2 separate regions of the Homo sapiens genome follow, and region 2 is linked to region 1. Evidence: fine-mapped expression QTL. Tissue or cell type: whole blood. Region 1 holds a variant in brackets; the other region holds the start of a gene. All regions are shown on one strand. Distances are from middle to middle.

Region 1 (2,757 bases):
CTGTGACTGAAGACAATAAACATTTTTTTAGCTCATGACTCTGCAAGGCAGTTCTTTGAATCTGGGCTGGCCTCAGCTGATGTCACGCATGTTCATAAAGCATGAACTCATGGTTCATGGTGGATTAGCAGATGGAGGTGGGCTGGGAGCTGTCTGGGCCATGGTGGCCTCACCCACATGTCCTGGAGGATGGCTGGCTGTCATCTGGGTGATGGTGATGACCAGGCCACGTGTCTTTCCTCCTCAGTGGGCTAGGCTACCTAGCCTCCGTGCATGCACGGAGGTCACAGGGTCCTGAGTTTCTTAGGAGGGCAAGTCCCATTGGCAGCCACACTTCAAGTCTCTACTTGTGTCTTTTGCTCCTGATCCACTGGTCAAAGCAAGTGGCATGTGAGATGCACAGTCACAGTGTGGGAAGGGGCAGTCCATGGCTGTTGACACCCAGAGGCATGAACAAATCATGGGCATTTCTGCAGCCATGCACCACCACTGTTTTCAGCATTGAGATGTGGGGCTGATGCATTCTTTGCATGGAGAAGACCTGTGGCCCTGCAGCACCCACAGGTTTGTGCTGGAGGAGGAAAGAGCATCATTCTCTGGCCAGGATGTGGTAGGAAAGGCAGGTGGGGTAGGACTCCTCTTTATGAGGCCAAGGCCCGGATGGCCTGTGGGGCAGGGGAGCAGACAGGCTTTGAGAGCTATGGCCACAAAGCTACAGGGACACTGGAGGTGCTGGTGGCTCCCACAGACCTGTTGGTCTGCAGCAGGCTGGGTGTCATGAGGCTAGTGGTACTGCTCTCCCAAGGGTCCTGAGGCCCAGAGGACAGAGGGAGAAAGTCATAGGGCAGAGAGTGACAGAGAGGACTGTGAGGGTGAATAAGGGTGGTAGGGAGCAAGACAGACAGCAAGAAACACACATGCATAGACAGACACAGATGCAGGGGAAAGATGGACACATGCAACCCTAACACAGGGAGGAATGTGGGGCGTGGAAGCTACAGAGAGACTCAGCTAGAGAGAGACTCAGGCAAAAGGAGGGACAGGCAGACACACAGACCAACAGATAAGCCAGGTGCAGTGGTTCACTCCTGTAATCCCAACACTTTGGGAGGCTGAGGCGGGTGGATCACCTAAGGTCAGGAGTTTGAGACCAGCTTGGCCAACGTGGCAAAACCCAATCTCTACTAAAAATACAAAAATTAGCCAGTCAAGGTGGTGGGTACTTGTAATCCCAGCTACTTGGGAGGCTGAGGCAGGAAAATCACTTGAACCCAGGAAGCAGAGGTTGCAGTGAGCTGAGATCACACTACTGCACTCCAGCCTGGGTGACAGAGTGAGACTCTCAAAGAAGAAGAAGAAGAAAAGATAAAATGATTGGCATGGACACAGAGAGAGACGCCATTACACAGGCTCATGCAGAGGTATAGAGATGGAAAGACCAGAGACAGAGACAGAAGCACACATGGAGAGCCACAGAGAGACACGGAGGAGAGAGGCAGAGAGACACAGTTGGAGAAAGGGAGAGACAAAGAGGCCAGAGACAAGTGCAGAGAGTGGAACAGACCGATTCACAGACACGGCCAAGGCAGTGAGCCACGTGCAGAAGTGGGACAGCAGAG[A/G]CAAGAGACATGCAGCAACGTGGAAACAGAGAGACAGACACAGAAACATGGCAAGAGCCACAGGGGGACAGTGAGGTTGGAGCCTTCTGCCTGCAGGACACCAGCTCCTCTTACCACACATGGGGCCCTAATATAGGGACAATGTCCCTGCCTCAGAGACAGTGGTGGGTGGGAGCTCAGGCTGGTGCTCAGGTCCCAGAGGGCTCTCCCTTCCCTCCCCACAACTCATTTCTAGTTTTTGTAATAGGCCTGCTGCCTCCTGGGACTTGGGTGGTCTGAGAAGGGTCCCTTGCCCCCAGATCCCTTGAAATAGGGGCCCATGGGGTGACTTGGCCTCTCCTTCTGGCTTCTCCAACTGGAACTAGCGTCCCCCTGGAGAATCCTGGGTGCCTGGCACACCTTCCTGGAGTGGGGCATTATTGCTCAAGACCTAGAAGAAATCACCCACCACATTGAAATAGACACAGATACTCTACGGAGGAGTGCGCAGAGGGAGTGGATATCCTATAACATGAGAGATGGCCGAAGGCCAAATTCAGTGTATAGGCACATTTTATCCACCCTGCCCTGGCTCTAAATCTTTTTCCTTGTAATTAATTATGGTGGACACTATGGCCAGCCCAGACCCCCTCTTCATGGTCCCACCCCATCCCCTAGCTGTGGTTCACAGCAGTGCCCCATCCTGCATAATTGCCCAAGATAATGCCTCTTCCAGGGAGACCAGATGATTGTGGTGCCCAGCCCTCTTGTCTCAGTTTGGAACAACTCTGAAGGGTCATCTCAGCTCTGGGCTCCCCCTAACATCAGCTTTGATTGCATCCACGTGGCAAACGAACTTCTCCCCACAAGAGCACTCCCCAAAAACCTTGTGCTCAAAACTCCCCGTCTCAGACTCTTTCCAGGGAGCCCAACCTATTAGCTGTTAATATTTAAAAATCAGAGCTGTCACGTACACATCGAGATTCCTGCATACGTTGAGAAATGGGGAATGTTTTTGCTCTGTTTCCCACTTGGCTTGGCCAAGTCCCTGCCACCCCCTTAGCTTTCCTCACTCATGTGACCAGCCAGCCTGTGAGCATTGAAGTTGGTGACTCTGGCTTCAGAGCCTTAAGGGGTGTGGGGTGTGCTTGCTTCAGAC
Region 2 (2,628 bases), 200 kb before region 1:
AGGTGTCAGGCACTGAGCTTGGTGCTGGGCGACATGGTGGTGAACAGCCCCCCTGCTCTCACAGAGCCTAGGTCTGGTGAAGGAGCTCACAGCCTAATGAAGCTCTGCGTTCCCAGAGTGGGGGACATGGTGGCAGTGGGTATCTTTAGGCCTTGTGCATGAACAGGGCGCTAAATAACATTGAATTACACATTGTAGACAATTATTACCCTTTCAGTTACCTTCAGATCACATCAAGGAGAGAGTCCTGGTTGGATAGTAATGTCTTTAACACCCCTCTAGCATTTATTAATTTCCTCTCTTAACAAATAAAAGATGACTTCAGTCGAAGATGCTTAGGACAGATGACGGCACCTGGAGATATTTTAATAATGTAGATACCTCTTGCTGTTCAAACTCAGACCAAAAGAGATAGGCTTTTTTTCCCCCAGAGGGTGCACAAATACGACCAGAATTTGTGAAGACGAGTCAGAAATGAATGAAATTTGGAAAAATATTGATCTACTGAAATCCTTCCTCCCCACACTATTAGCCCTATGTTACAGTTGGGGAAACGGAGTCGTTTTGCAGAGGGGATGGACAGAAGGTAGGGAGTTCTCTTCCAAACGTGCAGGAGGCAAGCAAAGCCAAGAATCTTCTCTGTGGTGGAGTTAGAGACATATAAAATAAAGATCGCTCCTCCCCTACCTCTGCAGAACGTGTGTGTGTATGTGTGTGTAAGTGTGTGCGGCCACAAGCCTTTCCGAATGAGTGACAGCGGGAGCCCATCCCTCCAGGAGACGCGTGCAGAATGACCAATGGGATGGATGGGGGTGGATGGGTACCAGTCTCCGCAGAGGCCGGGGTGGAATTCGCTGCGCCCCACCCCTTCCACCCGCTCCCCTTCGCCCCGTAGGTCTTTCCACTCTCGCTCCTCCCCTGGGCACATCTCCTGAACGCAGCCCCGGGGGCCGAGGACGGGGTGGGGTGGGGGGCGAGGCTCGGGTCCGACGACCCCGGGCTGCGGTCCCGGCGCTGCAGAGCTGCGGCTGTGCACGCTTAGCCGCGAGGCCCGCGGTAGCCCGGGCGCCGATATGTAAAGCAGCTGGCAGCGCTGGGCGGGGCCTGGGCGCGATGCAAATGAGGAGGGCGGGGCTGGCCCGGGGCTCCGCCTCCCTCCCCCGCAGCTGGGGCCAGCGGTGCCAAGCGCAGCTGGACGAGCGGCAGCAGCTGGGCGAGTGACAGCCCCGGCTCCGCGCGCCGCGGCCGCCAGAGCCGGCGCAGGGGAAGCGCCCGCGGCCCCGGGTGCAGCAGCGGCCGCCGCCTCCCGCGCCTCCCCGGCCCGCAGCCCGCGGTCCCGCGGCCCCGGGGCCGGCACCTCTCGGGCTCCGGCTCCCCGCGCGCAAGATGGCTGACCCGGCTGCGGGGCCGCCGCCGAGCGAGGGCGAGGAGAGCACCGTGCGCTTCGCCCGCAAAGGCGCCCTCCGGCAGAAGAACGTGCATGAGGTCAAGAACCACAAATTCACCGCCCGCTTCTTCAAGCAGCCCACCTTCTGCAGCCACTGCACCGACTTCATCTGGTGAGCGCGCGCGCGCAGGGCACCTTCCCGGGCCCCCGAGGGCAGCGCCGCGCCAGGGACCCCCTCTCCGCGCCCTCTGCGCCCTCCGCGCCCTCCGCACCCTGGGACCCCGCGTCTCCGGACTCCCGGCTCCGGACCCTGCTGCCCGGGACTCCCGGATGGACAGTCCTGCCGTTGCCCTGTCCCCACCCTGGTCCCAGACGGGCCGCCGCGGGGCGCCTCCTGCCCTCTCCTGCTCTCAGGCGCCTCTAGAGCGCCCAGGGGCGGCGTCGCGGGAGCCTTTGCTCCACCTGACTAGGAGCGCGCGGGGTCTGTGCCTGCCCTGGAGGGCAGCGCCTCGGGTGCTCTCCGACCCGGGGTTCCCTATCTCTCCGCCTGCTTCCGGGCGCGAGGAGCCCTCGCCCCCCACCCCTTGTTTCCGGGGGGGGCGGCGCCCTGGGTGTCCTTCTCTATCTCCCTGCGGGCATGGGACATCCTTTCTCACTCCTCTGTGCCTCCGGGCAGCGCCCTGTGTTATCTCCCATTGCCCCTCCCCGAGGGCCTGGGTTCCCCTTTCCACTCCTCGGTCACATCACTGCGGGCCCCTTTCTTCCCCAGTCCCTCCAGTAGTGGGGCATCCTTTCCTCCTTCCCAGTCCCCCTCCCAGAGGACACCACCGCCGCGGGGTCACTCTCGCCCTCCCTCTGAATGCGTCTTTATCTCTTCTCTTTTCCCGAGGGTGCTCGGGGCATCTATGGGTACATCTGTCGCCTGCCTTCAGCCCCTACCCCGACGGAAACGCTCCCCACTATCCCGCCACCTGGTGGTCGCAGCCTCCTCTCTTCTGCAGGAGTGAAGGCAGATGGGGGTTACAGCCGAGCTCCCACCTACCCCCACAAAGGCGGAAGACTCTTGGGCACCCGCCTGTGGCTGGGAGTTTGCACCTGGGGTACAGAGGCAGGGAGGAAGGCGGGTGACTCTGTGGGTAACTAGCTGGAGGCTGGGCCCCCCGGGCTGCCTGACATACACCTCCTTCTGCTTTTGCAGGGGCTTCGGGAAGCAGGGATTCCAGTGCCAAGGTAGGCTCTGG

What was found. PIP is the estimated chance that this variant, and not a neighbour inherited with it, causes the effect.
Region 2: PRKCB starts here. The variant in region 1 is fine-mapped to the expression of PRKCB in whole blood (INTERVAL, PIP above 0.99).

The regions. Positions count from the first base shown.
Region 1 is chr16:24,032,414-24,035,170 of GRCh38, forward strand. The region is part of intron 4 of PRKCB (protein kinase C beta); the gene reads left to right. Among named protein-coding and RNA genes, the nearest start is that of MIR1273H, 170 kb to the right of the region's middle. The variant A/G (reference allele first, on the strand shown) is at 1,620.
Region 2 is chr16:23,834,790-23,837,417 of GRCh38, forward strand. It overlaps PRKCB (protein kinase C beta), which reads left to right and starts at 1,194. Exons shown (of 17, transcript NM_002738.7): 1 at 1,194-1,559; 2 at 2,586-2,617. The coding sequence starts at 1,387. RefSeq lists silencers at 690-1,329, 1,360-1,439, 1,770-1,849 and enhancers at 803-1,350, 1,351-1,896, 2,160-2,299.